3 separate regions of the Homo sapiens genome follow, and all the other regions are linked to region 1. Evidence: fine-mapped expression QTL. Tissue or cell type: whole blood. Region 1 holds a variant in brackets; each other region holds the start of a gene. All regions are shown on one strand. Distances are from middle to middle.

Evidence for each region. PIP is the estimated chance that this variant, and not a neighbour inherited with it, causes the effect.
Region 2: BTNL8 starts here. The variant in region 1 is fine-mapped to the expression of BTNL8 in whole blood (TOPMed, PIP above 0.99).
Region 3: it holds the start of BTNL3, and the variant in region 1 is fine-mapped to the expression of BTNL3 in whole blood (TOPMed, PIP above 0.99).

Annotation. Positions count from the first base shown.
Region 1 is chr5:181,021,102-181,029,208 of GRCh38, reverse strand. No RefSeq gene overlaps it. Among named protein-coding and RNA genes, the nearest start is that of BTNL9, 15 kb to the left of the region's middle. The variant C/G (reference allele first, on the strand shown) is at 3,131.
Region 2 is chr5:180,894,722-180,902,828 of GRCh38, reverse strand. BTNL8 (butyrophilin like 8) reads right to left here and starts at 3,670. Exons shown (of 8, transcript NM_001040462.3): 1 at 3,470-3,670. The coding sequence starts at 3,518.
Region 3 is chr5:180,985,668-180,993,774 of GRCh38, reverse strand. BTNL3 (butyrophilin like 3) reads right to left here and starts at 4,929. Exons shown (of 8, transcript NM_197975.3): 1 at 4,698-4,929; 2 at 615-962. The coding sequence starts at 4,746. It also overlaps the pseudogene ARPP19P1.

The DNA of each region.
Region 1 (8,107 bases):
ACTGCTACAATTATAGGCGTGAGCCACCACACATGGCTAATATACGTGTTTGTTGCTATAAACTTCCCTCTTAGAACTGCTTAGAACTGCATCTCAAAGGTTTTCGTATGTTGTGTTTTCAATTTTACCTGTTTAAATTTTTTTTTAATTTTTTAATTGATCCATTGGTTGTTGAGGAGCATGCTATTTAATTTCTATGTATTTACAAAGTTTACAAATTTCCTCCTGATGTTGACTTCTAGTTTTATACCATTGTGGTTAGAAAATATACTTGAAATGATTTAGATCTTAAATTTGTTAAAGCTTTGTTTTGTGGCCTAACATATGATCTGTTCAGGAGAATGTTCCATGTGCTATTGAGACAGATGTGTATTCTGCAGCTTTTGAGTGTCATTTTTTTGTCTGTTTGTTTGAGACAGAATCTTGCTTTGTCGTCCATGGTGGAGTGCAGTGGTGCGATCTTGGCTCGCTGCAACCTCCATCTTTCAAGTTCAGGCGATTCTCGTGCCTCAGCCACTCAAGTAACTGGGATGACAGCAGTGCGCCACCATGCCCAACTGATTTTTGTATTTTTAGTAGAGACGGGGTTTCGCCATGTTGGCCAGGTTTGTCTCTAACTCCTGGGCTCTAATGATCCGCCTGCCTCAGCCTCCCAAAGTGCTGGGATTATAGGCATGCACCACCGCGCCCGGCCTTGAGCGGCACGTTCTGTAAATGTCTGATAGGTTCATTTAGTCTAGTGTGTGGTTTAAATCTGATGTTTCTTTGTTTGTATCCTGTCTGATGATCTGGCCATTGCTAAGAGCGTGATGCTGAAGTCTCCCGCTATTGAGACTGAAGGGAAGTGCTGGGAAGGGAAGAGCATGGTCCCTTTAAATGATACGGAAGGGGGAAGGGAAGCGCTGGGTAGAGGAGGGCGTGACTAGGGCTCCACCCCTAAGGATCTAGGTGTGGACAGGCGTTTCCTGCCCACATGTTGCGTTTCCCAAGACCACCCTGGCCTGCCACGCCCCCAACCTGTGCCTATAAACCTCCCAGACCCCAGCAGGCAGACACACAGGTGGGGTGGACGTCTGGAGAAACTGGCGCGGAAGGCCAGTGACCAGCAGAAGCACAGTGATGCAGAGTTTTGCTGGGGCAGTTGGAAATGAGCCCAGGACGCTGAGTGGCCTGACTCCAGGGGAAAACCTTCCCACTCCAAGTTGAGCTGGTTAACACAAGCCGCCTATATAGACTGCAAAACTAAAAGAACACCCTCTAACACACGTCCACTGGGGCTTCCGGAGCTGTAAGCGTTCACCTCTAGACACTGCCTGGGTTCGGAGCCCCACAGCCTGCCCGTCTCATATGCTCCCTTAGAGGTATGAGCAGCGGGGCACTGAAGGAGTGAGCCACAAGCCCTGCTTTGGGGACAAGGGGCGTTTTCCCCGTTTCACTATTATTGTATCGTAGTACTGTATTATTGCCATCTCTTTTTAAATTTAATAATGATTGCTTATTTGCTTCACTGTTGGGTGTACATGTATTTACTATTGTTATACTTGTTGAATTGACCTCTATTATTATATAATGACTTTGTCTCTTTTTATCTTACGTGAACTTAGCTACTCCTATTCTTGTTTCCCACTTATGTGGAATATTATTTTCCATTCCTTCATTTTTCATTTATATGTGTCCTTACAGGTGATGTGAGTTTTTTGTGGGCAGCATATAGTTGGATCTTTTTTAAAAAAAAATCCTTTCAGCCACTCTATATCTTTTTTTTTTTTTTTTTTTTTTTTGAGACGGAGTCTCGCTCTGTCGCCCAGGCTGGAGTGCAGTGGCGTGATCTCGGCTCACTGCAAGCTCCGCCTCCCGGGTTCACGCCATTCTCCTGCCTCAGCCTCCCGAGTAGCTGGGACTACAGGTGCCTGCCACCCCGGCTAATTTTTGGTATTTTTAGTAGAGTCAGGGTTTCACCGTGTTAGCCAGGATGGTCTCCATCTCCTGACCTCGTGATCCGCCCACCTCAGCCTCCCAAAGTGCTGGGATTATAGGCGTGAGCCACCGCGCCCGGCCCACTCTATATCTTTTAATTGAAGCATTTAATCCATTTATATTCAAGGTTATTATTGATAGGTAAGAACTTGCCCCAGCCATTTTGTTAATTTCTGATTGTTTTATAGATCCTTTGTTTCTTTTTATTAGTTCCATTTGCGATTTGTTGGTTTTCTGTAGTGATAAGCTTTGATTCCTTTTACTTTTCATTTGTGTATCTGCTGTAATTTTTTCTTTGTGGTTACTCTGGGACTTACATAAAAATCTTCCAGTTTTAATAGACTTTTAAACTGATACCAACTTAACTTTTGTCACAAATACTCTAGACTTTTCCTCTCTCACAATTGATAATCTTGTGGCTTCAATTTAGATCTTTCTATACTGTGTGTTCCTTAACAATTTATAGTTATCACTGATCGTTTTGATGTTTTATACTGGAGATCTGAAAGATCTCCATTTCAGTAATATAGTATTCTGAATTTGATTATTAATTTATGTCTACCAGTGAGGATTATACCTTCATATGTTTTCATGTTAGTAGTTATTGTCCTTTCACTTCCAGATGAAGCACTTTATTTATTTATTTATTTTTTGAGATGGAGTCTTGCTCTGTTGCCCAGGCTGGAGTGCAGTGGCGTGATCTCTGCTCACTGCAAACTCTGCCTCCCGGGTTCACACCCTTCTCCTGCCTCAGCCTCCCAAGTAGCTGGAACTACAGGCACCCGCCACCACTCCCGGCTAATTTTTTGTATTTTTAGTAGAGATGGGGTTTCACCGTATTAGCCAGGATGGTCTCGATCTCCTGACTTCGTGATCCTCCCGCCTTGGCCTCCTAAAGTGCTGGGATTACAGGAGTGAGCCACCGTGCCCGGCTGATGAAGCACTTTCTTAAACGTTTCTTGTAATGCCAGTCTTGTGGTGATGAATTCTCTCTGCTTTTGCTTGTCTGGGAAATACTTTATTTCTGAGGTATATCTCTGCTGGGTCTATTATTCTTGGCTAACATTTTTCTTTTAGCACTTGGAATAAATCATCCCTTTCCCTCCTATTCTGCAAGATTTCTGCTAAGAAATGCGCTGACAGTCTATTGTAG[C/G]TTGCCTTATATGTAATTTGTTACTTTTCTCTTGCTGATTTTACAACTCTGTCTTTGTTGTTGATTTCTGACAGTTTGAATATAATATACCTCAAAGATCCATTTGGATTGAATCTATAAAGGGTCCTTTAAGATTTATGGGTCTGGTCGTTCATATCTCTTCCAAGGCTTGGGCAGATTTCATCTATTATTTTGTTAAATAAGCTTTCTGTGCCTTTCACCATCTCTTCTTCCTCTAGAACTCTCATAATGCAAAAGTTTCTTTGCTTAATAGTCATTTAAGTCCTGTAGGCTTTCTTTGTTCTTTTTCATTTTTTTTCCTTTTTCATTCCTCTGACTAGGTTACTTCAATGGGTGCAGCACACCAACATGGCACATGTATACATATGTAACAAACCTGCACGTTGTGCACATGTACCCTAAAACTTAAAGTATGATTAAAAAAAAAAAAAAGACCTGTCTTTGAGTTTAGAAATTCTTCCTTCTGTTTGATATAGCCTGTTGTGAAGCTCCCAATTACATTTTTTTTTTTTGTCATCGAATTCTTCAGTTCCAAGATTTCTATTTGGTTCTTTATGATTTCTATCTCTGTTGAATTTTCTATTCAGGTCATAGCTTATTTTTTCATTTTATTGTCTATCTGTATTCTCTTGCTTCTCACTGCATTTCTTAAGATCATTATTTTGAATTCCTTTTCAGGCAATTCATAACTTTCCATTTCTTCGGGGTCAGTTACTAGAGAATTATTGTCCTCTTTCATTGACTTCATGTTTCCTTTTTCATGTTTCCTGTGTCCCTGCATTAACACCTGTGGATCTGGTGCAATGGTTGCCTTCTCTGATATTATGGAGTGGCTTTTGCAGGGAAAGTTTTGCCTGCAGATATGTCTTAGAGTGTCATTTGGGTAGGGTTCATTGGCTTTGGTTTTGAATGGGCGCAGTAGTCTCTGTGCAGTTTTTCAGCTGTAGTGGTCTAGGCTGCAGAAGTTTACGCAGCTGGTCTGCCAGATCTGAATGGGGATTGCCTGGGAGTTGTGTGCCTCACCAGTAAGTGCAGGGGCCAACCTGCCTATGATTGGGACCACCAGGGATGCAACACCCTGGCTGGTGAGTGTGCTAGTGGTGCACAGGGGCTGATCTGCTGGCTTGGGGTGGGGCTTTCTTGGGAGTGGTTCACTTGACTGATGAGCACATGGCTGCAGGCATTGACAGGTCCATCAGCTCATAGCCAGGCTCCCCTGGGTGGAGTGCCTGGCTGGTGAACATGCTGGCTGCATGCATTGACAGGTCTGCTGGCTCATAGCAGGGCTTCCCTGGGAGCAGCACACTGGCCTGATGAGTATGCCTGCAGTGCATGGGGGCCAATTTACTGGCTCAGGGCCAGGCTCCCGTGGAAGTGGCATGTTTGGCTGGTGAGCATGGTGGTGGCATATGGGGATCCATATGCCATTTGCTGGCTTGGGGTGGGGTCCCCCTGGAAGTGATGTGCACAGTTGGTGAACATGCAGGTGGCATGCAGGAGCTAGTTTGCCAGTTTGGGGATGAGGTCCCCCTAGAAGTGGTGCACCAGACTGGTGATTGCACCAGGATACATGAGGGCCTCCTGGCTCAGATTCACCAGCTCACCTGGCTACTGAGTGTGCTGAATGTGTACACAGCTGGTAAAGACTCAGCTTCTTTGCTGAGCAGGATTGTCTCTACTTTTACAGGCAGAGTGTCATGTGGATTCTGGTGCTGGGGTGCTGGGCCTAGGTTCTGAAGAGCTGAAGTTGGGGCTCTGCAGTCATTAGGATGCAGAAGGTGGGGCACCTCCTTGGTAGCTTATTCCCAGGAAGTAGTAACCTGTAGAAGCTTGGCTGGGGAATGGTGCAGTACTATGTGTAAACATGATGTAATGGCTGCATACCCTCAGAGATGAAAAGGTGCAGTGGTTACAGGCTCCTGCAGCAGGATGCACTGTGGCTGTGGATCCAGTATCAAGATGGTGCCATACAGCTGCAGCTTTGGTAATGTGTTAGGGAGTGGGCTACAATGTGGGCTCCTTCTCTGGGGTAGTGCAGTTCAGGGATGCCAGGCAGCTCCCCCAACGGGGCTCAGGGCCTGTGGGCGCTGCAGGATTCTCTAGCAGCAAAGATTGCAGGTATCTGTGATATCAGTGGGGATTCCTGGGGGCCTCCTGGTTACCTTTTTCCTGCTGGGGGAAGTGCCTTTTTTTTTGAGTTAATCCTGGCTGGGAAGACAGTGTAGCAGAGGCTGAGTGTCCTCATTTTGCTTCTATGCAGCCCTTCCAAACGGTCTAGTTACATCATGTTTCCTGTCTTTTCCTGCTGTACGCCAGCATTCTCCCTTATACACTACAGTGCAAGTGTAGTTATTTATTCATCATTTGGGTCCTGTTTTTTTTTTTTTTTTTTGGTGTGGGGAGTACAGGCATTAGGGTCCTCTAGCAAACCATCTTTTGAACTCATCCTTTTTATCAGGAACTCACTGCTGTGATTACTGATCCACTCCTGTGATAATAGCATTAATCTCAGAACCATAAGACAAGGCAATTATAAATTTTTAAAAATAGCTGCATTAATCTATTCATGAGACCAGAGAGTCCTTATGACTTAATCACCCCTTAAAAGTCCCATCACTTAACACTGTTACAATGGCAATTAAGTTTCAACATGAATTTTGGCAGGGACATTTAAACTATAGCACAGTATATAGTTGGGCCTTTTTAAAAAAATTCATTCAGCCATTACTTTTTTTGAATGGAGAATTTAATTCATTTTCATTCAAAGTAAATACTGTTAAGTATTTACTATTACCGTTTTGTAATTTTTGTTTTGTAGATCCTTTTTTTCTTTCTTTCTTTTTTAGTCTCCCTTTGTAGTTTTATAGTTCTTTTGTAGTGGTATACTCTGAATCCTATTTATGTTTTGTTTTGTGCATCTACTATGTGTTTTTGCTTTGTGGTTATCATGAGGTTTAACTAAAATATCTAACAGTTGTACATTTTTGTCCCCTACACACACACATTTTATCTTTTGATATCAGAATTTATGTAATCTTGTAATTTGTATTCCTTAACAATTTATTTTTTAATAGTTTTGTCTCTTAACCGTCATACTAGAGATAAAATTGCTTTAACACCACCTTTCTAGTCCTAGAGTTTTCTGAATATGACTCGGTTACCAGTACCATTGTTTTGTGCTTTCATGTGTTTTATGGTATTCATCAGTGGCCTTTCATTTCAGTGTAAAGCACTCTCTTTCCTGTAAGTCAGGCATAGTAGTGATGAATTCTCTTAGCTTTTGTTTGTCTGGGAAAGATCTCTCAGCACAAACACTACTGAGGAGAGAGTGGGATGATACATTCAAAGTGAAGAAAAAATAACCAAGAATACTTTACCCAGAAAAGTTGTCCTTTAGAAATGAGAGAGAAATAAAATCTTTCCCAGACAAACAAAAGCTAAGAGAATTCATCACTACTGTGCCTTAGGAGAGAGTGTGATGATACACTCAAAGTGAAGAAAAATAACCAAGACTAGTTTACCCAGCAAAGTTGTCCTTTAGAAATGAGGGAGAAATAAAATATTTCCCAGACAAACAAAAGCTAAGAGAATTTATCACTACTATGCCTGACTTACAGGAAAGAGAGTGCTTTACACTGAAACGAAAGGCCACTCCCTCATTTCTAAAGGACAACTTTGCTGGGTAAAGTATTCTTGGTTATTTTTTCTTCATTTTGAATGTATCATCCCACTCTCTCCTCAGCAGTATTTCTGCTGAGAGATCTGCTGATGGCTGTATTGATATTTCCTTGTATGTGGTATGTTTCTAATCTCTTTGCTTTGAATTTTCCTTTGCTTTTTGGTAGTTTGACTATTATGTGTCTTGGTGAACTCTTCTTCAGTTTAAATTTAATTGGGGACCCCTGAGCTTCCTGTACCTGAATGTTGGTATCTCTTCCCAGATTTGGGATGTTTTTAGCCATTATTTCTCGTAACATTTTTTCTCATCTTTTTTATTTCTCTTCTTCTGCAACTCCTATTATGCAAAAATTAGTTTTCTTGATGGTATTCTATAACTCATGTAGTCTTTCTTCATTTTTATTCTTTTTCTTTTTGCTCTTCTGACTGGATAATTTTTAAAATTTCTGTCTTTGAGCTCATCAGTTCTTTATTTGCCCTGATTGAGTCTGCTGTTGAAGTTTTCTGTTGACTTTTTTTGGTTCAGTCATTGTATTCTTAATCTCTAGGATTTATATTTGGTTTCTAAAAATTGTTTCTATTTCTTGGTTTATTGATCTATTTTTTCCAAATTTTATTTAATTTTTTATCTGTATATTCTTATAGTTCATTGAAATTCTTTAAGAGAATTGTCCTGATTTTTTTTGCCAGTCATTACATAAATCTACATTCCTTTATAGTTCATGCTTCCCTCTTTCTAATCCTTATGTCCCCGTGTTGGCATCTGTACATTTGAGGAGACTGCCACCTCTTCCAGCCTTTACAGGTATTCATTCACAGGAATTAACCTTCACTGTTTAGTTTAGCCTGTGATTCTGGATGGGCCAGCTGGTAGTGACCACAGGCAGGTAGAGCTTGCTGTTGAGTTCTCTAGTTGGGTGGGCTGATGCCTTTTATCTGAGGTCAAGTGGGGCTCCTGGCTGGGCTCTACTGTCCAGCGAGACCACTGGCTAGGCTCTGCGATCACGTGGAACTGCTGACTGGGCACTGCAGTTACCACTAATGAGGCCAGGTCACAGCATATATTCCCTGGCCAAGCAGTTTTGCTATTTGAGTTCTGCAGTTGGACAGGACTGCAGGATGGACCCAAAGGCAAGGCAGAATGCTGCTCAGGATGAACTAGACTAGAGGCTGTGCTCAGTAAACATGCATGATATGGGCTTGCTCTCCAGCTTTGGGGTGAGCTCTGGGGTTGGTTCAAACTGCTCTGTGGTCTCCTGTGTTGGGCAGGTCCAGCCC
Region 2 (8,107 bases), 130 kb after region 1:
ATGAAATTAGAAATCATCATTCTCAGTAAACTATCGCAAGAACAAAAAACCAAACACCGCATATTCTCACTCATAGGTGGGAATTGAACAATGAGATCACATGGACACAGGAAGGGGAATATCACACTCTGGGGACGTTGTGGGGTAGGGGGAGGGGGGAGGGATAGCATCGGGAGATATACCTAATGCTAGATGACGAGTTAGTGGGTGCAGCGCACCAGCATGGCACATGTATACATATGTAACTAACCTGCACAATGTGCACATGTACCCTAAAACTTAAAGTATAAAAGCAAAAACAAAAAAAAAAACCCTTTATAGTGTGACCTACTCAGGGCTCCATTGGGCTGGGCTGGAGATGTGCATCAGGGGGAAACATTCATCACAATCCTATTTCTAAAGCCAGTGACTTGCATTTGTGTATCTCCTTACATTTGACAAACCATGTCCACATCAGTTACTTCATTCGATCTTGAGGAGCACCTGCAGAAATGTGTATTATTAATGTTTTTATTTTTAAGATGAGAAAACCATGTTATCCAGAGGAAAAAGTCTCTTTCTGAATGTAGACCCTTTGATTCCAGGAGGTTCTATTGCCACATTCTCTCCCATCTGCCCATTTGCTTCAATTAAAAAAAAAACCCAAACATCCCCATTTCCATCGTCCTTGCTGAAAACCAAAGTTGACGTCTTTCTAATGGCCCAGAGAAGAGTATGGGCCATAAAGTCTCCAGTTTGCGGCAATTCGTTAAGGTTTCCTTCAAGCACAATATTATATCAATATTTTATGGCTACTATAGAGGAATGTTACATTTCTGCCCATGGCGCACACAATTATTTGTACTTCCTTAGTTTTTTTTGAAAATCTGCTTGTTCTGCCAAGTTCTGAAAGACATGCTGTGACACTGAAACAAGATTTTGCAGTCTGTTTTCTGTAAATTTGTTCTTTAGCACGTTCACGTGTGACTTATATTTTCCATAGCATGTGCCTTTTACGCTTGTGTAGTAATTTTTTCCACTTTATTTTAGCACTGAAAGGTGGTTCGCCTAGTGCTTTGTCAACATGTCTTGCCTTCATTTTTTTTAAAAAAAATTCTTGGTACATGTATGTCCTCACCTCGCTTTTGAAACTTTCTTCATTGTCTTGCTTCAAGTGTGACAATTACATGTTTTCTGTGAGCCTCCCCTGCACAGCTCTTGGCTCTCTGGGGACAGGGCCTGATTTTCTTGCTCAGCATAGTACCCACTTGATCAGCACAGAGCCAGTCACACAGAACAGGCTCCACAGTTATGCATGTGAACGGTGAGCCCCATTTCCTTTCTTACTTGCTCATCTGTTTAACAATCATTTGAGTAATTTTCCTGGTGTAAATCACTCTTACTACCCTGTAAGGATTACACTGCTTCTTAGAGACCACAGACTATGGAGGCCCACTCCCTTCACCTTCTAAGTACCCACCCCCTTTGACTGGCAGTGTCTCTTGATTCATTCACATGTATCCATTTATGGTATATGGATATACCTGTGTGTGCTGTCTGCATGTGCATCAGAGGGAAGGTGAATTACATGTGTGAATTTCTAGATCAGTGGATACTTTTTCATTTTAGCACTAATTTTTTAGTTTAATTACATTTTATAAATCTTGCTGAAATGTATTTCACTCATGCATCTTTAAGAGTATTATTAAATGAGGCATGACTTTGCAGCCTGGTGTCTGACCAGCTTCTGACCTGGTGTAGCAGATGTTGAGGCCCTGCTCCTCACCACCCAACCCTGAGTCCCCCTGCAGTGGGATGGGCATTTCCCTGCCTGCTGACAGCTCCGTCCCTGGAGCCTGGCCTCTGCCTCTCTGCTGAGGGCTTCCTGCCACCCTTGGAACCTACTTAGCCCTGGCACAAGGCAGCTCAGAAGGTTTGCGATTTTAGCAGTCCTGGGCGGCACATCTCACCCAGTGGGGAAAGGAGACAGTAGATGTTGGAATGACTCTGAGCCACCATCTATAAAGTTCCTCCAAAGGTCCCAGTGGGACTGGGTCCCAGTTGCCACCGCAGCAACGCTCATTAGCGCACCCTCTATGGCTTTCCCCCTACTGGCTTCACTCTCTCCACTCCCTCACTTTGTTTCCCAGAATCACCTGCTCAACGAATCACTGGCAGGAAGGCCCTTGTCTTAGGTCAGGTTTGGGGACCCAGCGTATGCCAGCTGGGCTGCTATGGATGCTGCCTTCAGGGCTGTGTGGGGCTCTTGAGGCAAGGAAACATTTTTCAGGGTACCTCCATTTCTCCGGCCAGCCCTTGCTGCTGTCACCTCTCTTGCCTATAACATCTCCTTTCACTCCTTCCACTTCCTTCCCTTGAAAATAAGAAAGGAACAAGACTGTTGCTGCAACATGCCATGCACCCGTGCAGCTGTGTGCACTCTACATGCACAAGCTCATGCAGTCCTCACCACAGCCCCAGCAGGAATGTGATCGTATCTCCATGTCATCATAAGCAAACCAACACCTAAGGAAGCTGTGAACAATAAAGCTCACAAGAAAATGAAATAAGAGTTTTTAAAAATAAAATGTTTCTGTCTCCAAGATCATTTCCAGGATGTCCTGCTGCCTCACCCGGAAACAGAAGGGAAACAAAGAAGCTCGTCAGAAAATAAATGAAAACAAACTGAAACGAGAGCGTCTCCTGTTAGTAACACATATGGGTTTTTGTTTTAAGGAAACATGCTCTATGTTTTGATTGCCCTTATTTCTGTTTTCTTAGCTTCATTTAGCAAAAAAGATATAGGTGGACAGGTGGCAGGATGAACCTTCACAGACAGAAAGTGAACACAGTCAATCGAATCTTCTGTGGCTGGGTACTGACCATCTAGCCACCAGCATTCTACCCCAACCTCAAGCTTCCTCTGTGAATTGTATTCAGTCACTCAACATCCTATATACTAGGTTCTGTGTTAACAGTAACTGGAAGGAGAAAGAAGAGTGGATTTCTTCCCAGAATATGCCAGGTTTCAGCTAATTTCTCACCTCAAGACCTGTACACCTTCCTCCACCCTCGTGTCTCATACCACAGACATTTCTAACTCAGCATGTCTTTAGCTGGATACATTGTCTTTTCCCCAAAAATCCTAACTGTGTCTCTTCCCAGATGGACATCCATGTCAGCAACCTTGGTGCTCCAATAACCCTGCCTACACCACTCAGCCCATCTGGGAGAAACACTGAATTTATTCACCTTAACACGTTAGGTGTGTCCCCGTCAACGATCACGGTGCGTCTTCAACACCCGTGTTTCCATTATTTGGGGGCTACTATAATTGTTTCCACAGCGCCTGATCCTTCCCCAGGCTGAGGCTAGGAGAAGCCAAAGGAATGGAAACGACAAAGATGCCTTCATTCCATTATGCTGCAACCATTGTAGCTAAAGAACTCAAACTGTTAGTTAGTAAGGAGGAAACAAAGATGAGTCTTACCTGATCCCAGCTTGAGGAGACTCAGAACCAAACTGAGCATGAGAGCCATGGATGTGTTCTGTGAATGGACCTCACGGCATGGAAACGGATGACAGGAGAGGTGACGGATGGATTAGAGAGAAGAGGAGAACTGGCCTAATGCTCAAGGTGCGGAAGCCACGGAGAGGCTCTGCGTGAGCGGAGGGCAAACTGCGCTGTTCTGAGAGTCTACTCCATCGAGACACAGCTGTCATGTACCAGAAGTGTAGGGACTCTAGACTTTGAACCACTGCATAAATGTCTATATCTTATCAAGGAAGCAAAGATAGAAATAGTGTGGATAAGATTGGAGGTGAACTTTGTCCTGGGCAAAACGATGCCCTGTGTGGGTGAAACAGGAATGTCAGATGCGGAAATACTTTTCACGTCCAATCTGGCAGGCAGGGCTGTATGGCCATGGGATCTAGTCCTGAAAAACCTCATGTTAGCACTGGATAGTTTGGTGTCCAAGTAAATAGGCCATGCTCCATTAGTAGTAGCCTACAGCAGGTGACTTGACATTTCCTGGCACAGTCTGAGGTCCTTTTGCTTACCCCTCCATTCTCTGAAGTTCAGGGCCAGGACTGTAATCATGAGGCCAGATAAAAATAACTTTCCAGAACAAAACAGATCCTTAGTGTTAAACATCTGATACATTGGGAAAGGTGCCTGGGCAGGTTCAGACATGAGGAAACTTATTTATTATATAAACTAAGTTCCAGGGCAGCCACAATGAGAGATTTGCAGTCTTTTTAAGCACACGGAAACTCACAAAGTCACCACTTAACTAGATCAGAATGAAAATTTCCACAGATAACCATCAAAATAAACATACTCTAATCATAATGCAATTAAAATTAAAAAGTAATTCAAAAACATAGGAAACTCTATACACTAAGAAATTCTTATGTAACAATTTAAAACAACTCACGAGACTAAATCACAATAAAAGTTAGCATCTAGAATAGGACAAAATGAAAACACTGCATTTAGTCTAAAATCTAGAACACTGACAACACCAAATGCTGGTGAGGATGCGGAGCAACAGGAATTCTCACTGATTGCTGACAGGAATGCAAGACGGTACGGTTGTTCTAGAAGACAGTTCAGCAATTTCCTGCAAAATTAAACATACTTTTATCACCTAATCCAGCAACTGCACTGCTTTTTATTCACCTAAATGACTTGAAAACATATGTCCACATGAAAAATTGCACATGAATGTTTATAGCAGCTTTATTCATAATTGCCAAAAATGTTTGCAACCAGATATCATTCAATAATGATACATAGAATGTATACACAAACTATGGTACATCTATACAATGGAATATTACTCTGTGATAAAAAAAAAAAGGAAATGAGTTGTTGAATGTTGTAAGCAAGAGAGTAGAATAGAAAATTATTGATCTCATGCTGTCTCAGAAATACAGATTTACCAAGGATATATAGACCAAAATACCTTTTTATGAAGCTGCTGAGAAGGCACAGTATCCTCTCCATTCCAGTGGCAGCTATGCCCCACCCATGGCCATTCGAAGCCTAGGCCTAGGCCCAGTGGAACGGTCATGACCCAGGCTTCTGAACCTACAGGCTGCTCTGGCCCCCAAGGACCAAACAGTCCAACCCAGCAAGGAAGCCAAGCCTGGCCTGGTGAAGCAGTTGTACCCTCTCAAGCATGAGCCAAGCACCTTGACCCCAGAGAAGCATGCGCAATAGAATGGCAACAATACCCCCTTGTGTGCACACTAACTGGGGGCCCCAGACTCAGCCCCAGGAAAGCAATGTCTGAGATGGTGGAGCAGCTGTGCTCCCTTGGCACATAAAGCGGCCTGGTGCCCCACCTCCAGAAAAGCTATGCCCAAGCCAGAACACTGGTCTTATTCCCTCAGCACACAAACCAGCCCTGCATCCCACCCGAGGGAAGCTGTACCTGAGCTGGTGGAGTAGTTGTGCTCTCTTGGTGCCTGAGCTCAGTGTAATCTACTTTGCTACCACCACTCCCACAAATTACTGCAGTACGGGCCACTGAGGCATCCACTTGTCACTGACATTGATTATAGCTGAGAAGCTTCACAGAGACTACGCTACTGTGCCAGCCAGAAGCAGAGCCGATACACCCTACTCAGCACCCGAGGACCTATCAACAAGTGAAAGTTTTTTCTTAGAAAAGCTACTTTATAAGTTAGGAGAGGCAAATGTTCTACCAGATGCACATATATCAACACAGGGACACAAGAAACATGAAAAAGCAAAGAAACATGACTCTCCCCAAAAAGGCTGAGGCAGGAAAATCACTTGAATCTGAGAGGTGGAGGTTGCAGTGAGCCGAGATCGTGCCACTGCACTCCAGCCTGGTTGACAGAGTGAGACTCCATCTCAAAATAATAATAATAATAATAATAATAATAATAATAATATAACATTTTTAAAAGTCAGCAAGATTTGAACTAGAAATACCATTTGACCCAGCCATCCCATTCCTGGGCACATACCCAAAGGATTATAAAACATGCTGCTATAAAGACACATGCACACGTATGTTTATTGCGACACTATTCACAATAGCAAAGACTTGGAACCAACCCAAATGTCCAACAATGATAGACTGGATTAAGAAAATGTGGCACATATACACCATGGAATACTATGAAGCCATAAAAAATGATGAGTTCATGTCCTTTGTAGGGACATGGATGAAATTAGAAATCATCATTCTCAGTAAACTATCGCAAGGACAAAAAACCAAACACTGCATGTTCTCACTCATAGGTGGGAATCAAACAATGAGAACATGTGGACACAGGAAGGGGAACATCACACACCGGGGCCTGTTGTGGGGTGGGGGGAGGGGGGAGGGATAGCATTAGGAGATATACCTAATGTTAAATGACGAGTTACTGGGTGCAGCACACCAACATGGCACATGTATACATATGTAACAAACCTGCACGTTGTGCACATGTACCATAAAACTTAAAGTATAATTAAAAAAATAAAAAATAAATAAAAAATAAAAAGTCAGCAAGATTCAAGATAATATAGATAGACTATTGAAAGAAATCAGGAAAAAAAAATCATGGTATAAATTAGAAATTCAGCAAAGAAATAGACATCAAGAAAAATTAAACAGATGTCTTGCCATTAGATTATTCAATGAAGGAAATGAAAAAATACAATAGAGAGCTTCAATGGCAGACTAGATCAAGCTTAAGGACAAAAATAAAGTGAAAAGAAAGAATTTTTTCATGCAAACGGTAAAAAAAGAAAGCAGGGGTGACTATATTTATGTCAGATAAAGTAGGCCAGAAGTCAAAAACTGTTACAAGAGACTAAGATTGTCTTTAAGTAATAATAAGCAAATAAGTTAATCAGACTGTAACAATTATAAATATGCAACCAACATCAAGGTGTGTAAACATATAAAGCAAATATTAGTGGACATGAGGAAAACATAGCAAAACAAAAATACTGGGGAATTTCAATACCCCTTTATTATTATTATTATTATATTTTAAGTTCTGGGATACATGTGCAGGAAGTGCAGGTTTAGGTATATATGTGCCATGGTGGTTTGCTGCACCCATCAAACTATCATCAACATTATGTAATTCTCCTAATGCTACCCCTCCCTCCCCTAGCTCCCTACCCTCCGACAGGCCCTGGTGTGTGATGTTCCCCTCCCTGTGTCCATGTGTTCTCATTGTTCAACTCCCACTTATGAGTGAGAACATGCACTGTTTGGTTTTCTGTTCTTGTGTTAGTTTGCTGAGAATGATGGTGTCCAGCTTCACCCATGTCTCTGCAAAGGACATGAACTCATCCTTTTTTATGGCTGCATAGTATTCCATAGTATATATGTGCCACATTTTCTTTATCCAGCCTATCATTGATGGGCATTTGGGTTGGTTCCAAGTCTTTGCTATTGTGAACAGTGTCACAATAAACATATGTGTACATGTGTCTTTATAGTAGAATGATTTGTAATCCTTTGGGTATATACAGTAATGGGATTGCTGAGTCAAATGGTGTTTCTTGTTCTAGATCCTTGAGGAATCGCCACACTGTCTTCCACAATGGTTGAACTAATTTACACTCCTACCAACAGGCTAAAAGCATTCCTATTTCTTCACATCCTCTCCAGCATCTGTCATTTCCTGACTTTTTAATGATCACCATTCTCACTGGCACAAGATGGTATCTCATTGTGGTTTTGATTTACATTTCTCTAATGACCAGTGATAATGAGCTTTTTTTCATGTTTGTTGGCCATATAAATGTGTTCTTTTGAGAGGTGTCTGTTCATATCCTTCACCCACTTTTTGATCAGATTTTTTTTTCTTGTAGATTTGTTTAACTTCTTTGTAGATTCTGGATATTAGCCCTTTGTCAGATGGATAGATTGCAAAAATGTTCTCGCATTCTGTAGGTTACCTGTGCACTCTGATGATCATTTCTTTTGCTGTGCAGAAGCTCTTTAGTTTAACTAGATCCCATTTGTCTATTTTGGCTTTTGTTGCCATTGCTTTTGGTGTTTTAGTCATGAAGTCTTTGCCCATGCCTATGTCCTGAATAGTATTACCTAGGTTTTCTTTTAGGGTTTTTATGGTTTTAGGTTTT
Region 3 (8,107 bases), 35 kb after region 1:
GGTTTAAACAGAAATTAAGTCACTATCTGATATAGTGCTTATGTATATAGAAGAAATACTCAAGGCAATGTTATTTTTAAATTGTGGAGTTTGAAGGGCTCTGAATGAAAATGAAGTTTCCACACTTCAAAGTGGTAAAATGTTGATATAGTAGATTGTGATAAATTATATATGAATATCATAACACCTAAAGCAGCACCTAAGAAAACACTACAAAATGTTATACTAAAAAAAGACTAACAATAAGTTGTGATGGAATCCTAAAAAAAGTTTAGTAACACACAAGAAGTCAAGAAAAAAGAAGAAAATAAAAGAAATTGAAATATGACAGGCATTATCACTCTCATTTCACCAACATTGGGAGTGGCTTTCCTCTGTATCCTGTCAGGTGGTGGCAGGTGCAGGTGGCTGTCTTCTGCATCATGATCCCACCTGTGTGATGGCAGGGCCAGGCTCATCTCCAGAAACCTCAGGTCAGTGATCCCCACCGAAGCCTTTTTACATCATGTCAGAATCTGGAAAGTCTGTTTTATTTCATTATCTGAAATACTTTTAAGAGCTGATAATGGTAGCATGACTTTACAAGACAACTCAGTCATAAATAAACAACTGACCTGCCACCCGCAGCTCCCAGGTGGCCTCCTCATCGTAAATCTGGGAACTGAACCAGCACCCATACAGGCCGATGTCCGAGGGAGTGATGTTTTTTAGCCTTAGAGAGACACGCCCCCCTGCAATGGAGTCCTTCACAAACTCAGTTCTCCCTCGATACTGTGGCATCTGCTTAGATTCCCAGTCTTCCCCATCTCTGTAGAGGTGGACCACAGCATGGAACTGATTCCTGAAGAACCGCACTTCCATAGCCTCTGCACTGGTCTCAGGAAAGAGGGAGCAGGAGAACACGGCGTCCTCCCCCACCAAGGCCTGGACAAACTTGCCCGGTCCAGTGACTTGCCACTGTCCTATAGGAGGAAACATAACAGACAACTGAGCAAAATCCACTTGAGTCCTTCTCAGGGCTCTGGTGGGTGGAGAAGTGTGGGGTATGGGGTGGGGGATCCATCAGTCTTCTTTCTAAACCTGATGACTTGCATTTGCACATCTTACACTTGCGAGAATGCTTCCATGTCAGTTACTTCACTCGGTTCTCACACACATCTCATGTGAGATGAGGTGAGGTATGTGCTATCAATATTCCCACATTCAACATGAGGAAACCCTGTCTCTGGGGATGAGTTATTCAGGGGCCTGAGAGGCACCTTCCAAATGCAGACTCCCTGACTGGAGGAGAATCTATCTCCACGTGCTCTCCTCTCTGCCCATCTGCTTAATGAACACTCACACCACCCCCTTTGCATCTTCTATGCTAAAAACCTTTTTTAATGACCCAGGAGGGGAGTAAGTGGCCATAAAATATCGAATTTGGGAAAATTTATTTCCTTCAAATAGATGATTACATCTTGTAAATGTTTTATGGATACAAGAAAGGAATATATATTCTCCGCTGAAGCACATTTATTTGTGCTTCTTTTTTTTAAGTAGACTTCTGCCATATTCTGAAGGACATGGTGTGACACAGTGAGGAGATTTTGTAGTTTTTATTTCAGAGATTTGCCCTTTAGTGCACTGATGTTGTGACATATCTTTTCCATGACACCTACATTTTACTCCAGGTAATAATTTTATGTTTTTCCACTTTATTATTTCGTGCTTGAATAGTACTTCGTCTAGCAAAAGTTTGTCCAAGCCACAGCCTGTGGGCTGCATGAGACTCAGGACGGCTTTGAATACGGTCCAACACAAATTCTTAAACTTTCTTAAAACATTATAAGATTTTTTGTGATTTTTTTTCATTCATTAGTTATCGTTAGTGTTAGTTCTTCTTTCAATATGGCCCAGGGAAGGCAAAAGATTGGACACCCCCACTCTAGTGCTTTATCAACATGGCTTACCTGTTTTGTTTTGTTTGTATTTTCTTGGTACAGCTTTGTCTTGATCTTCACTTGAAACTGTCTTCATCTTGCTGCAAGTGACATAACTGTTTGTTTTCTGCGAGCCTTCCCTGCACGACTTTTAGCTTCATGAGGACAGAGTGTGTGTGTTTCCCTCAGCACAGGATTCCCCATGCCCAGCATGGAGAATGGGCTCCACAGACAGGGATTATGCCTAGGAATGGTGAGCGCTACTTTCTTTTTGCATTTGCTTCTTGGTTTTGTGGTCAACTAAGTAATTTTTCTGGTGCAAATCACACTTACAACTCTGTATGATTAGAGTTCTTCTTAGAGAGACCACAAACGATGGAGGCCCACTCCCTTCACCTTCTAAGTACCCACCCCCTTTGATTGGCAGTGTCTCTTGATTCATTCACATGTATCCATTTATGGTATATGGATATATCTGTGTGTGGTATCTGCATGTGCATCAGAGGCAAAGTGGATCCCATGTGTGAATTTCCAGATAAGTGGATATTTTTAATTTTAGCACTAATTATTTCTAAGTTTAAGTACATTTTATAAATCTTGCTGAAATGTATTTCACTCATGCATCTTTAAGAGCATTATTAAGTGAGGCGTGACTTTGCAGCCTGGTGTCAGACCAGCTGCTGACCTGGTGTAGCAGATGTTGAGGCCCTGCTCCTCACCACCCAACCCTGAGTCCCCCTGGAATGGGATGGGCACTTGCCTGCCTGCTGACAGCTCCGCCCCTGGAGCCTGGCCTCTGCCTCTCTGCTGATGGCTTCTTGCAACCTTTGGAACCTCCTCAGCCCAGGCACAGGGTGGCCAAGAAGGTTTGCGATTTTAATAGTCCCGGAGGGGCACATCTCACCCAGTGGGGAACAGGAAGCAGTGGATGTTGGGAAGATCCTGAGCCATCGTCTATACAGTTCCTCCAAAGGACCCAGTGGGACTGGGTCCCAGTTGCCACCGCAGCAACCTGCTCATTAGCGCACCCTCTATGGCTTACCTCCCGCTGGCTTCACTCTCTGCACCCTGTCACTTTTGTTTCTGAGAACAGTCTGCTAAACAAACCACCTGCAGAAAGGCCCTTGCTCTAGATCAGCTTTTGGGACCCAGCCTGTCAGCTGGGCTGCTGTGAGTGCTGCCTTCAAGGCTGTGTGAGACTCTCAAGCCAGGCAAACAGTTTTTAGTATATGTCTGTTTCTCCGGCCAGCCTTGCTGCTGTCATTTGTCTTGCCGACAGCGTCTCCCTTTACTCCTTCCCCTGGGGAGAAGCAAGGAATGACACTGTCTGTTGTCGCAACATACTGTGCCCCAGCGGAGCTCCGTGCTGGACGCTCTACATGCACGAGTTCACGCAATCCACACAGCAGCCCTTCAGCCACAGGAATGTCACAGATGTGATCTTATTATCTCTATGTCATCATAAGCAAAAATTGATGCTAATAGAAGTTATTAGCCACAAGCTCATAGAGAAAAGGAAAGTTTTAAAAATAGTGTTACTTCCTCTAAGGTCATTTCCAGCATGCCCTGCTGCCTCATGCAGAAACAGAAAGCAGACAGAAAGGCTTGTCAGAAAATGGGTGAGAATGTACTTAAACGGAGGCTGTCTTGTGAGTAACATACGTGGATTGTGATTTTTTGTTTTTGTTTTTTTGAGACAAAGTCTCACTCTGTCACCCAGGTTGGAGTGCAGTGGCACGATCTTGGCACACTGCAACCTCCGCCTCCTGGGTTTAAGTGATTCTCGTGCCTCAGCCTCCCGAGTAGCTGGGACTACAGGCGCTCACCACCATGCCCGGCTAATTTTTGTGTTTTTAGTAGAGATGGGGTTTCACCATGTTGGCCAGGCTAGTCTCAAACTCCTGACCTCAGGTGATCCACCCACCTCAGCCTCCCAAAGTGCTGGGATTACAGGTGTGAGCCACCACGCCCTCTGAGCACACATGGATTTTGATCCCCTTATTTCTGTTTTGTTGGCTTTGTTTAGCAAAACAGTCATAGGTAGACAAATAGCAGGATGGAACTGTTCCAGACAGAAAGTGAACACAGTCAAATGAACTTTTTGTGGCTTAACACTGACCACCCAGAATCCAGTGTTCTACTCCAGCCCCTATCTCTCCCTGCAAAATTTATTTGATTACTGAATATCCTATACACCAGGCTTTGTCTTGATGGTTACTAGAAGGAGAAAGAAGAGTGGGTTTCTGCCTAGACTATGCCAGGTTCCAACTTACTCCTCACTTAAAGGTCTGGTGCTCTACCCCATAACTACAGGTGTTTCTAACTCAGCATGTGCATAACTGGACACATTGTCTTTTTCTCCAAACATCCTAAACAGTGCCACCTTCCACCCAGGCACCCAAGTCAAAAACCTGGGGATTTTATTAGAGACTTCCCCTGCCTAAGCCCCACAGCCCACCTGGGGAGAACAATGTGTTTACCTTGGCGTTCTCAATGTGTTCCCTCCCTGCTCCCAGGGCCTGCTCCCATTATTCTGAGCTACTGTGATAGTGCCCAAGTCCTTGAGAAACAGCCCAAGGAGTCTTCCTCAATTCCTGCTGCCCTGTGCTTCCCACAGCTCCTGGCATTGGTAGTTTCCAGCCTGAGGCCAGGAGAAGCTGGAGAATGCAAGCACCAAAGATTCCTGCATCTCACTGTGCTGAGATCATTGTCATGAATGAACTCAAAATATTATTCAACAAGGAGAAAAACAACAGTCCAAACTGAAAGGCTTACCTGACACCAGCTCGTAGAAACTGAGAACCAAAATGAGCACAAAAGCCATGGATATTCCTGTGGGTTGATCTCACACTATGAAAACAGATGACAGCAGGGGTGGATGGATGATTTGGAGGTCAGGCCAGCTGTCTCAGGCGCAGGAGCCGTGGAGAGGCTCTTCATGAACGATGTCAAACTGTGCATTTCTCCCTAGAGCCTCCCTAAACATGGCTGTATGAATGAGGAGTATGGGCACTGGAGTTTGAGTCACTGCATTTATTGGCAGGTCATAAACATCTATCTCAGACCAGAGAAATGATAATGGAAAGAGAGTAGGGTACACTTGGAGGGACTTTGTTCTGGGTTGTGCCCCACATAGGTGGTAAAGGAATGCCAGATGCAGAGATATTTTCAGGCTTAGTCTGGCAGGCAGAGCTGCAAGAGAGAGTGAACATCTGTCCCTGAAAGAGAGATTGGACGGGCGCAGTGGCTCATGCCTGTAATCCCAGCACTTTGGGAAGCCAAGGCAGGTGAATCACGAGGTCAAGAGATCGAGATCATCCTGGCCAACATGATGAAACCCCGTCTCTACTGAAAATACAAAAATCAGCCAGGCATGGTGGTGCGCACCTGTAGTCCCACCTACTTGGGCGGCTGAGGCAGGAGAATTGCTTGAACCGGGAAGAGGGAGGTTGCAGTGAGCCCAGATTGCACTACTACACTCCAGTCTGGTGACAGAGTGAGGCTCTATCTCAGAAAAAAAAAAAAAAAAAAAAAAAAAAAGAGATCATCTCAGCACAGGGTAGTGAGGCAGTGAATTTGCCCAGGCACACAGGCCATGCCCCATGAGACTCATATTTCCTGGCACAGCATGAGGTAATTCTGCCCATCCCTCCCTTGTCTTGAGTTCAGGGACAGGACTCTGATCATGAGGCCAGATTGTGTTGAACTTGCCAGAACAACCAGGACCTTGATCTCCAAGGATCCAAGGTATTGAGAAGGGGACCAAGACGATGTTTCAGGCCCGGGGGTAAGGCAAAGGCAAAGATGCATTCATTCAGTCATTCATTAGATGCACTAAGCCAGGACACACACAGTTAGGGATTATGCAGTGATTTCAAGTCTAGGGACATGCACAAAGAATAAGCACTTACTAGATCAGAAAGCAGGTTTCCACGGAGAGCACCACGAAGGACAACGAAGGTAAAGAGCAATTTAAAAAGAGGAAACCCCATGAACTTAGAAATTGTTAATAACACAATTTTAAATAACTAATGGGTCTAAGAGAACTAATAATAGAAGTTGAAGGTAATTAGACTAGAAGAAGAATGAAAACACTACATTTAAAATACTATGATGCATGTAAGGCAGTTCTTACAGAAAGGCTTATCCTTAAGTGCTTGTATTAGGAAAAAAGAAGTCTGAAATTGGCTGAACAAAGCATCTGAGTTAATCAGAGTTAACTCTTGGATCCTGAGGGTCTCTGGCCACTCGCCTTGTCTTTTCTCTCCCTTCACTTTTCTTTTTTTTTCCCCCACAATCTGTAAACATGTAATCCTACCTTAAGTACAAAGCCATTACAAATGCAAAAAAATCAAAGATTACAAGTCAATTTCTTTCTGCCTACAGTAATAGCTGAAATGTAAAGAGATCAACTTCAGAAAAAAATACATTGAAAAACATACCACTTTAATAAGACAAAACTGCAAATTAGATGAATAGAAATTAGGTAGATCCATTTATTTTTTAAATACAAGTATAATTTTGGAAGAGCTATTTGACAAATTCAGCATTAACTGCCAACTCTGTAGACATGTTTAACAACAACAACAAAACAAGACATTTACTCTTGGCCCTTTTAGTACAGGTGAAGTGTCCTATTGCATCACAAGTATTAGTAATGAAGTAACAGATCCAAGGGCATAATATTAAAGATGTTTTTTTCCAATTGCGATTTAGTTGAAAAATAACATAATACGAACATATATGAATGGCTATCAAGACCACCAGTGATCTGCAGAATACCTAGAGGCCTACGTACTTAGAAGGCTGAAACTAGTAAAACAGTATTAAAATCAGTGTTTTTATTCTAAGATGAGCAATGACAGAGTGAGATTTCTGATTCCAATTTTATAAGGTGCGGTGGGGAGTTGAGAGGAGATATTGGGGAAGACTGGCACTTTGTGCTGAGTTAGAGATGGGAATGTGGCTCAAATTAGTTAATATTCAGAGTAGGATATTGTTTTAGAAAATTTTAAATGCATTCTAAATTGTGGCATATTGAAAAGGATATTAAGGAACAATGATTCATTAGCCCTAAACACAATTTAGTGAGTGCCATCAGTAGGCTTAAGAAATAAGCAGGGATGGCAGATGATGAGGCAAAATGAGGTGAAATAGAAAATGGAAAGTGGAAAATATGCTTGAACATTGGAGAATGTGAAAAGACCACTAAAGAAACTGCTTTGGTGATCACTCAGAAGTGCTCTTCCCATTGGCTACCCGCTCCTGATCACCTCTTCCCATTGGCTACCCGCTCCTGATCACCTCTTCCCATTGGCTACCTGCTCCTGATCACCTCTTCCCATTGGCTACCCACTCCTGATCACCCAAACACCAATTTTAGAGCACAGCAGCAGTAACTCCCTTTATCTGCAATTTCACTTTCCATAGTTTGTTACCCGAGGCAACCTTGGTCCAAACATATTATGTGGAAAATTCCAGAAATAAACCATGTTTTAAATCACAAGCTGGTTGTGCACTGTGGCTCATTCCTGTAATCTCAGCACCTTGGGAGGCCGAGGAGGGCGGATCACCTAAGGTCATGAGCTCGAGACCAGCCTGGCCAACATGGTGAGACCCTGTCTCTACTAAAAATACAAAAATTAGCTGGGCATGTTGGCGGGCGCCTGCATTCCCAGCTACCTGGGAGGCTGAGGCAGAAGAACTGCTTGAACCCAGGAGGCAGAGGCTGCAGTGAGCCAAGGTCGCACCACTACTCCAGGCTGGGTGATAGAGCGAGACTCCCTCTCAAAAAAAAAAAATAATAATAAAATAAATCACAAGCCATGTAGTGATGAAATCTCATGATCCTCCTCCTCTGTCCTGCCTGGGATGTGAATCATCCCTTTGTCCTGCTTATCCACACAGGTTGTATACAACCTGCCCCTTAGTCGCTTAGTAGCCGCCTTGGTTGTCAGATTGAAAAAACATAGACTATACAGGGTTTAGTACTATCTGAGGTTTCAGGCATCTACTAGGGGTCTCGGACTGTATCTCTTGCAGATAAGGGGAGACTACTGTATTACATTTCAGCTTCCATAAAACTTTACTAATTCGGATTAAGAACACAAGCCTGATTTTGTAAAAAGCATCCATAAATATTCAGAGGTATAGTTTTGCTTCATCAAGTAAAAAGAGCAACTAAT